Linked DNA regions of Homo sapiens: region 1 is linked to region 2. The links come from fine-mapping of genetic effects on gene expression. A gene starts in region 2. The other region holds a variant in brackets. All regions are shown on one strand. Distances are between the middles of the regions.

Evidence for each region.
Region 1: its variant is fine-mapped to the expression of MYBPC3 in whole blood (INTERVAL, PIP above 0.99).

What each region holds. Positions count from the first base shown.
Region 1 is chr11:46,836,527-46,842,025 of GRCh38, forward strand. All of the region lies in intron 1 of CKAP5 (cytoskeleton associated protein 5), which reads right to left. Among named protein-coding and RNA genes, the nearest start is that of CKAP5, 7.0 kb to the right of the region's middle. The variant CA/C (reference allele first, on the strand shown) is at 2,091.
Region 2 is chr11:47,350,185-47,355,418 of GRCh38, forward strand. MYBPC3 (myosin binding protein C3) reads right to left here and starts at 2,518. Exons shown (of 35, transcript NM_000256.3): 1 at 2,439-2,518; 2 at 1,055-1,321; 3 at 318-431. The coding sequence starts at 2,463. SPI1 (Spi-1 proto-oncogene) reads right to left here. Exons shown (of 5, transcript NM_003120.3): 5 at 4,676-5,234. The coding sequence ends at 5,043. RefSeq lists enhancers at 180-1,161, 1,162-2,142.

The sequences.
Region 1 (5,499 bases), 510 kb before region 2:
ACACAGTGAGACCCCATCTCTTTAAAATAATAATAATAATAAAGTGGGGACACTACATACCTACCAGAAGGGCTAAAATCCAAAAACCAGATAGAACTAAGTGCTGTTAAGAACGTGGAGCAAGAGGAACTCTCATTCATTGCTAATAGGAATGCAAAATGGTACAGCCACTCTGGAATAGAGTTTGGCAGTTTCTTACAAAACTATAACTAGTCTTACCATATGATCCAGCAACCTGCTTCTAGGTATTTATCCAACTGAATTAAAAATTTATGTCAGCTGGGCACAGTGGGTTGTACTGTTAATCCCAGCACTTTTGGGAGGCCAAGGCAGGAGTTCGAGACTTTTATGACATAAAGAGTGAACTTTAATGTATGCAAATTTTAAAAAGTCATTTAGGAGACTGGGAGATTGCAGAAAAGAATGAAGACTATGACAAGGGAATCTATATTACAGATGTGTGAAACAACTTCACCAAAGGGGGTGGGAAAAAGGTTCTGACCTAAGTAGCTTTGGTAATGAGTGGAGTCTGAAAGATTAAGGGCAAAAGGAACTGCACAGAAGTATGTACTCTAGTTGATAAAGTTTTTTTCATGGAGTATGGGTTAGCAATTCTGATACTGCTATCCATGTATGTATATCCATATATAATGGAACTGGACAATTAAATAAATGGATGGTGGAAATTAGGTTTTTCACTATTGTGAATGGAAATTCAAAGATCAGCAAGGGGAGGAGGCTAGAATGATCTATGTGATAATGGATCAGAATTGGAGACACCAGTAGGAACTCATGTTTTTCCCCCCCGCCCATACTACTGAAAGTGATCTATGGAACTCGTTTAACTTAATATAGACACAGATGGCTACATAGAGAAATATTTATAGATATGTCTATATACATGGGGTTAGCATACATTCATATATTTCTTTGCTCTAACAGTTGAAAGGACCTAAAAGAAATGACACCCCAGTAGCAAAGAGAACACTCAGTACCCAGGTCTTGTTTCTAATAGCATTCTCCAATAAGGGAACCAGGGCACCTTGGGGAAATGGCTGATTCTAGCACTGGGACAAGAAATACACAAGATGAGCCTGGAACATTTCCAGATAGTAAGGAAGTACTCAAAGATCAATACAAATACGCGCACACACACACACATGTATGTTAAAGGAATACAGGAAGCTCCCAAAGGACAAAGCTGGAACAACCTGAACAACAAAATAATGTAATATTGGAGTGTAACCTAAAATATAAAATAAATATACTTGAGTCCACACTATTATCAGTAAATACTTGACTAAACTAATAAATGGGAAAGGAGAGACAAGAATTTCAAATAAATTAAGTAGGTACTCCACCCTAAGATCAAGGAACTCCCCATTCCTTAAGTGTGGGCTGCAAACAGTGACTTCCCTTCAAAGAATACAGTATAGAAAAGGAGGGGAAAAAAAAGTAAATTCACTGTAGAAACCTCACAAACACTATTTCAGGTCAATATGAACAGTCAAGGTCAATATTAAGTCATAAATCATGTTGATAGCATGTACCCTTGATATGATGTGATGAAAATGGCACTTTACCTCTGTGGTCTTCCTGCCCAAAACCTGTAACTCCAGTCTAATGAGAAAAACATCAGACAAATTCCAATAGAAGGACATCTTACAATGTATTTGACTAGTACCTCTCAAAACAGATTAAAATTTTTTTAAAAAATTCAGATGTATAATTTTTCTAGCTTTCTTAAAGACTTTCTGAACTAGTCTAAAATAATTTTAAGACTAATTGAGACTGTTAAGATACTGCTTACACCCAAAAACACAGGAACAAGCCTGGTGCAGTGGCTCACACCAGTAATCCCAGCACTTTGGATGCTGGAGCGAGAGGATTGTTTGAGGCCAGGAGTTCAAGACCAGCTTAGGCAACATACTGAGACTGTGTCTCCACAAAAAGAAAAAAATGACAGCCAGACACGGTGGCTCACGCCTGTAATCCTAGCACTTTAGCACTTTGGGAGGCCGAGGCAGGCAGATCACTTGAGTCCAAGAGTTCAAGACCATCCTGGGCAACATAGTAATACCTTGCCTCTT[CA/C]AAAAAAAAAAAAAAAAAAAAAAAAAAAATTAGCCGGGTGTGGTGGCACTCGCCTGTAGTCCCAGCCACTAGAGGCTGAGGTGAGAGGATCCCTTGAGCCCGGGAGGTGAAGGTTGCAGTAAGCAGAGATCAGGCCAACACACTCCAGCCTAGGAGACAGAGTGGGACCCCATCTCAAAAAAAAAAAAAAAAAAAAAAAAAAATTGCTGAGCCACCATTGTCGCAACATTTTTAGAATATAAAAATAAAAAAAAATAAATAAAGACACAGAAACACAGCCAACTGAATAGTCAGATACTGTTTTTATCACTTTTTTGTTCAGAGAAGATGATGCCAGTTTTGGCCAATTTTGTTCAACAAATATTTTTGACCACCTAGTTTGTTGCAGGCATTGTTGAGTCACTGAGGTAACCTCAAAGGAAAAAAAAAATCTATGTTCTGCTTTCATTTTTATGAGAAAATCTAACAATATATAGACAAACAATAAACAATTACATAACAATATATGCTATGAAGTAAATAAGGAAAAGTGAAGTAAAAGTGACCAAGAGGGCTCCTCTAATTCAGAGCTCAGAAAAGTGTCTCTTTAAGGAGATGACATTTAAGTTGAAGCCTGAGAGTGCCAGTAATACAGGCTGGGGGTAGGGGTAGAGTGAAGTGAGAAGTTCCAGAACAGAATGCAAAGACCGAAAAGAATAAGCGTAATGTGTTGGAGTTATACACATCAAGTAGGTAGAGTAACTGCCCTGATAGAAATGAGCTAAGTAATGTATTCTAAACTCCAGAGGCAAGAATAGGAAAATCATTTAAAAACCTTAAAACTCTCCAACATTGACTACCAAGAATCCTAATTAGATTAAGAACTCAATTTTTATGCGTCCCTTTAGCTACCCACCGCCACCACTGTCACAGTTGTCCATCTTCCATATGGTAAATGCCATCTTTCCTCTAAAAACTATCATGCCTGTCATTCATATTTCATCACATCTCCGATAGAAGTACTTTTTTAAAAGGGGCTGGGGGAATTCTACCCAGAAATTGCTCCTGAATTCTCCTACAGATCCCTACTTCACGTAGTACAATCATAGGTTAAGAGCAAAGGCCCTGGAGACAGACTGACTTGGGTTTGAATTCAGATTCTATCACTTAGTTCTATGATTTTGAGCATGTTGCACAGCCTTTTAAAGACTCAGTTTCCTCATCTGTAAAACATTGTGAGGATAAAAAAAGATAAAATGTAGCGGGACATGTTGGCTCATGCTTGTAACCCCAGCAATTTGGGAGGGTAAGGAGGGCAGATTGCTTAAGCCCAGGAGTTTGAGACCAGCCTGAGTAACATGGCAAAACCCCATCTCTACAAAAAATACAAAAATTAGCATGTGCCTGTAGGCCCACCTACTTGGGAGGCTGAGGTGGGAGGACAGATTGAGCCCAGGAGGTTGAGTCTACAGTGAGCCATGATCACACCACTACACTCCAGCCTGGGCGACAGAGTGAGATCCTGTCTCAAAAAAATTAATTAATTAATTAATTAAACAAAATGTGGGACCCAGTAGGCATTCAATACATGTTAGCTACTGCTAGTAAAAGTATCTGGGCATGTATTTTATTCAAGGACCAGAGCTGACCCCAGAGGGATTACAGAAACTATAATTTGCTACAGTAAATTGTTTGACAGATAAAACTGTCAAACTCCCTTAGGTCAGGGCCTTTGTCTTTTTCTGGTTCACCAGTGTATTCCCTGAATCTAGAACAATGTGTGACAGACATTAAGCATCAATCTCAATATCTGTTCAATGAATGAATAAGACCCCATTAAAGGAGCATAAGAGAGCCTGGCTTTACCTTAACATACTCATTCCCTGTCAAAATTTTTAACACTTATCCTAAGGCACTGTTAAAGTTGTTTATTATTTTTAATTGCTTACCAAAAACCTAGAACAGTGTTCATAATATTAAGGTACTCAAATTTATTGCAATTAAAACTTTGCTGCTGGAGAAGCTGAGAGCTGAACACATGGTGGTCCCTGGAGCGTGGTGTGCCCAGAGAGGGCATGGAAGCTCCATGCCTCTTCCCCTATACCTCACCCTATATAGCTCTTTGTATCCTTTGCAATATCCTTTATAATAAACTGGCTGGAAAATGTGTTTTCCTGAGTTCTATGAACAGGTCTAGCAAATTAATCAAACCCAAGGCAGGGAATGGGGGGCGGTATTAGGAATGCCCATTTTTATAGTCAGCCTACAGAAGCACAGGTAAAAAAAAACCTGGGGCTTCAGATTGGCATCTGAGTTGGGGGCAGTCTTCTGGGACTAAACCCTCAACCTGTGGGATCTGACACTACCTCCAGATAGAAAGTGTCAGAATTGGCCAGGTGAGGTGGCTCATGCCTGTAATCCCAGCACTTTGGGAGGCTGAGGCGGGCGGATCACTTGAGGCCAGGAGTTCAAGACCAGCCTGGCCAAAATGGAGAAACCCCGTCTCTACTAAAAATACAAAAAATTAGATGGGTGTTGTGGTGGGTTCTTGTAATCCCAGCTACTCGGGAGGCTGAGGAAGGAGAATCTCTTGAACCCGGGAGACAGAGGTTGCAGTCAGCCAAGACTGCGCCACCGCACTCCAGCCTGGGCAACAGAGCAATTCTGTCTCAAAAAAAAAAAAAAAGGTGTCAGAATTGAACTGAATTAGAGGACACACAGCTAGTGTCCACTGCTGAAGAACTACTTGCTTGGTGTGTGGGGAAAAAAATCTCACACATCTGAGGTCACAGAAGTTTTCTGTATTGTGAGAGTATAAGATAAACTTATTAAAGTTTCTTATTCTATATTCTCAGAATTGGCGTCAGAATTGGGATTTGCTAGAATGACTTGGCTCACAGACACATATGGTTTGGGAAGAAAAAGGATAAAAGGATAGGGATAAAGAACTTTGATTCTTAGGTGGCCAAGTGGTCACCCATGGTAAAGAGCTGAAGCTGTGCTGTCATCAATTACTAAAGGTAAAAGTTATCCATGGAATCCAGAGATGGATCCAACTGCCTGGGAGTTGGTTCACAGGATGCACAAGGAAATGCAAACTAGTATTAAAAAAGTGATATGCTGGCTCGGCACGGTGGCTCACGCCTGTAATCCCAGCACTTTGGGAGGCCAAGGCAGGAGGATCACGAGGTTAGGAGATTGAGACCATCTGGCTAACAGTGAAACTCCATCTCTACTAAAAATACAAAAAATTTAGGCGGGTGCTGTGGCTCACGCCTGTAATCCCAGCTACTCAGGAGGCTGAGGCAGGAGAATCACTTGAGCCTGGGAGGCAGAGGTTGCAGTGAGCCGAGATCGTGCCATTGCACTCCAGCCCTGGAGAAAGAGTAAGACTTTGGTTCAAAAAAAAAAAAAAAAAAAAAGCGAAAT
Region 2 (5,234 bases):
ACAATCTCGGCTCACTGCAAGCTCCGCCTCCCAGGTTCACACCATTCTCCTGCCTCAGCCTCCCAAGTTAGCTGGGACCGCAGGTGCCCGCCACCACGCCCGGCTAATTTTTTTGTATTTTTAGTAGAGATGGGGTTTCATCATGTTAGCCAGGATGGTCTCAATCTCCTGACCTCATGATCCGCCCACCTCGGCCTCCCAAAGTACTGGGGATTATAGGCCTGAGCCACCGCACCTGGCCCAGCAAAGGCTTTTGAGACCTGCCCTGGACACGCCCTACCCACGGATCCTGCCCCTCCCTGCCCAGCCCCTCTCACCTTTGGGACTTGGGGCACTTTCTCCCAGCTCAGCGGCTGGGGCCGGGGCTTCTCCAGGGGCTCCAGTGGCCTCAGCAGGGGCAGGGGCAGGGGCCAGCATGGGCTCTGCCTTCTCTGGAGGGGATCAGATGGGAGTCGTGGTGCAGCCACTAACCAGAGACCCCTCCACCCTCTCTCTCCTGAGCATTGGACCCATGAGCCCGCTGTGGATGAGGAAAGTCTGCCATGGCTGTCCTCCCGCTGCCTGGGCCCCTCAGAGGCAGCTCATGCTGAGCTGGAGAGCCAGCCTGCCTCTCACATTCTCCTCCCCGTCCCAGGCCATCAGTTCCCATGTCCTCTGCATCTGCCCTGAACAGCTCCAGGTCCATCCCTGCTCTGCCCCAGCCTTAGAGCAGCCCCTCAGACTGGGCTGCACTCCCCTCATCCACAGCTCCTGGGGCTTCCCGGCCGTCTGTGCAGGGTCATCTCCCCAGGGAGGTCTGCAGGGGGAGAGTGGGGTTGTGTCTTGTTCATCTCTCCCACCTACCCCATGGCTGGAACAAGCCAGGATGGCACATGGGGGTACTCAGAGAGGTCATGTGCAGAAAAGGGGGAAAGGGCGTTCCTGGCGGGGGGCACAGCCACAGCAAAGGCAAGAAAGTGTGAAAGCACCTCCTGTTCCCTGGATGGATGGAGAGTCGCTGGGCTGCCCCTCCCCCAGCAGCCCAAACCTCAGGGAAGGCTGATCAGGATCTTACCTGCCTCTATGACCTTGAGGTCGAACTTGACCTTGGAGGAGCCAGCAATGACTGCGTAAGATCCCTGGTCGGCAGGGCCCACTTCCCGCACTGTCAGCGTATGCCGTGTGCCCTCTGTGGCCAGGCCGTACTTGTTGCTGGCGCTGATGTCACTGCCTCCGCGCTGCCAGCGCACCTTCACTCCTGCCCGCTCTGTCTCGGCCTCGAACACGGCAGGGCTGCCTGCGGCCACTTCCACTGACCGTGGCTTCTTGCTAAAAGCTGAGACTGAAGGGCCAGGTGGAGGCTACAGCGGCCCCTGGTTGGAGCGTGCACCCCGCCCCTGCAGCCCCTCTCAGTAAATACTGTGCTAGCACTTTCTATGCATCCCCTCACGTAATACTCTACCAGTTCTCTGAGGTAGTTGCAGTTATTCTGTTCATTTCTCAGAGGAGGACACTGAGGCTCAGAGAAGCTAAGCGGCTCCTCCAAGATCACACAGCTAGCAGTCGGGAGAGCCAGGGCTGTGGTCCTGACCTCCCAACAAGACTTTTTCTGCATGTGTCCACTTTCCCTGCTTGGAGACACCCGTGATGAACCCAGCTCCCTTTCCCCCAACCATTTCGGGCCCTTGGCAGGGGGCGGGGAAGTCTGCCTACTTGGAATGTGGCCAAATTTGTCCTCCAAGGACCTCAGGCTGGGTATCAGCAACTGAGATAAAGCTGGCCTGGGAGGGCGCTGGGGGATGGGGACCTGGATCTCTGCCCTGGACAACCTTCATAAGGGCACAGCCCAGGCCCAGGTCCCTGGGCTGTGATTTTCCCTGCCCTTGGCCTGGGTTCAGGGGCTCCTGACTGTCCTCTCTCAGAGAAGAGGGGCTGTGTCACCCTCAACATGGGGGCCACACCGTACAGGCTCATGAAGCAGATAATGTCACAGCCAGGAGGAACCAACCCAATGCCACCACCACCCCCGGCACCCCAGGTTGGGAGACTGAGACCCATAGTGGGTAGAGACTGGTCTGAAGGCATGCCGTGAGCCTGGCTCAGCTCCATACTAAACGTGGGCTCTGTCCGCGGGGAACCTTGCTGTGGAAGGTGAAGGCAATGGGACAGGGAAGGGGTCCCTTTGCATTCTCAGAATGGGTTGACCCCGGGTGCTTCCTGTCTTGGCTGTGTCCCCTCTCTGCGTCCCTGACCTTGGGTTTACCTTCACCTCTCATCAGAGGGATGGGAAAAAGAAACCGAGAATCAAAAAAGGACCCTGGAGGACTGGCTGCCCCTGTCCTGGGGCTCAGAGGCCACGTCCTCGTCAACCCCCTCAAGAACTCCCTCCTAGCCCTGCTCCCCAATTGTAGACACCCCCCTGCTCCCACACTTAGACCCAACCCCAGTCCTAAAGCTACCTGGCTTCTTCCCCGGCTCAGGCATCCTGAGAGACGTCACACCAGGCACGAAGCAGGCACAGGTCACCCAAAGAGGGACTGAGTGGGGTCCTGTCCTTCCCACTATATATGGGGACCTCCCCCCTCCCCAGGCTCTGCTTATCTGCCTCCTGTCCAGCCACCTGCTAAATATAGATGAATTCCAGAGAGCTGAGGTCTCTCCAGGGAGAAGGTAGGGCCACATTGTCCCTGGCTGGCTCCTGTCCCTTCCCCCCTCACCCCCCGCAGCACAATTCTGCCTCCCCAACCTTTGGCAAGCCTCAGGGGTACTCCAAGCCCCGTGTGTGTCCCTCTTACAGCAAATTGTACGGTGGGAGCATGCTGGGCCCATAACCCTAAGGCTAACGGGTCAGGAGCATCCTCGCAGGCAGTTCAGGCAGTGGTCATGTCCACAGACCCTGGGGCCAGGGTGTCTCTGAGTCCTAGCACTGCCATCTCTTTAATCTCAAAGCACCTGGTTTCCTCATCTGTAAAGCGGGGTGGGTGAAAGCAGCACCCACTGCACAGGATTGTCACACGTATGAAGTGGGTTTATAATTTTAAAAATGTTAGGCCGGGTGTGGTGGCTCATCTGTAATCCCAGCACTTTGGGAGGCCGAGGCAGGCAGATTATTTGAGGCCAGGAGTTTGAGACCAGCCTGGGCAACATGGCAAAACCCCATCTCTACTAAAAAAATAAAAAATAAAATAAATACACACACACACACAAATTAGCCAGGTGTGGTGGTGTGGACCTGTAGTATCAGCTACCCAGGAGGCTGAGGTGGGAGGATCGCTTGAGTCCAAGGAGTTCCGGGCTGCAGTGAGCCAAAATCGCACCACTGCACTGCAGCCTGGGTGACAGAGTGATAATAATAATAAAAATATTATTTATTATTATTTTTTATTATTAATATCTCAAAGAATAATAATAAAAAAATAAAAATGGGCTGGGCGAAGTGGCTCACACCTGTAATCCCAGCACTTTGGGAGGCTGAGGCGGGCAGATCACTTGAGCTCAGGAGTTCGAGACCAGCCTGGGCAACATGATGAAACCCCATCTGTACAAAAAATACAAAAATCAGTCAGGCATGTGACGCACACCTGTAGTCCCAGATGCTCGGGAGGCTGAGGCAGGAGAATCACTTGAGCCCGGGGGGTCAGGGCTGCAGTGAGCCATGTTCGTGCCACTGCACTCCAGCCTGGGCAACAAAGTAAGACCCTGTCTCAAAAAAAAAAAAATAAAAATAGAAGAATGAAGACACAACACCATTTTGCCTTCTCTTGTGGCCCTGCAGTAGGACTAGGGAGCTGCAGGGTTGGGCTGCAGTGAGCCCTCTGGGGTTGAGGAGGTGTGGGGCGGGTATTTGTCCCTACGATAATGGCCCCAGAATCTGGGTTCCCTAAGGTCTTTGACAGCGTTGGGAAGTCCCTCACTCCCAGGCTGTCTACTGCCACTACTTGCTACCGTCTGGAGGAAAACACAGGACTTACAGGCTTCTCCGCTCAGCTTGGTCTGTTTCTCCCCTGCTGTGGCTAGGAGCTAGAAAGCAAATAGAACCTGGGGGTCCCACCAGGGATTCACTTGGGTCTAAAGTCCTGCTGGGCGTGCAGCTCGTGAGAACCCTTTGCGGCCCACAGGAGCTTTGGGGCTTAATTCCTGTCCTCGGAATGCTGAAGAGTATCCTCTTCCAGATAAGCAAGGCCTCCCACTCCATGTTGACGTGTCGGGACAGACCTGGAGTGTGATCCAACTTGGCCACTCAACGGCTGTGACCTTGGGGAAATAATTTGACCTCTACAAGCCTCAGTTTCCCATTCTATAAAATGGAGTGATATTAGACTCCACATCTCAAGGTTGGCAGATACTAATTGACCAGAATATCAAATGTTGTTGCTGGTCATGGTCATCATCATCATCATCATCATCATCATGAGTTCAAACCTCATCAAGGCTTAAAAACAACAACTATCAGGAGTAGAGAGCTTTTAAATAGGATCTGCTCTCCTAATCACAATTGAGGACTTGTTCTTTCCACCAAACTCTAACTCCTGTTCAGGCGCTCTGTGTCATTGGTCCTCATGTTCCCAGGGTCCAGCATTGGGTACAGTCCTCGGTAAACACCCGATGGACAAATGACAAAAAGAGACGTCGCAGCACACAGGGGCCAAAAGAGATACACAACAAATTTTAAAAGAGACTCTGTGCTGCAAGAGGATGGATTGAGAATAACTTTACTTGTTTTTTGGGAGGAGGTTAATGGGTGGGAGGGGTGAGAGGGGAGATCTGATTTACATACGGACTTGAGACTCCCAAGGCAGTACCCCGGGTCGTCCTCTGCAAGGTTGCCCCGGTGGGGTCTGACGCCCAGCTGGCGTCCGGGAGCCGGGGTGGAGTCCTGGAGGGAGGCGAAGCGGGATGTGGAGGGGGCCTGGAGTGGGGGGAGGGGGCGGGTGAGGCGAGGCCCGGCCCGCCACAGTCCTGCCTCTGGGCCCCGGGAGCGTCCTCCCTGTGTCCGGGCCGGGCGAGGGCTTAATGCTATGGCCAGCGGGGAGGCCTGGCGGGGCCCGGCGGGGGCTGCGGGCTCAGTGGGGCGGGTGGCGCCGCTCGGCCAGGCCCCCGCGGCCCAGCACTTCGCCGCTGAACTGGTAGGTGAGCTTCTTCTTCACCTTCTTGACCTCGCCCGTCTTGCCGTAGTTGCGCAGCGCGCGCGCCATCTTCTGGTAGGTCATCTTCTTGCGGTTGCCCTTCTGGATGCCCCAGCGGTGCGCCAGCGC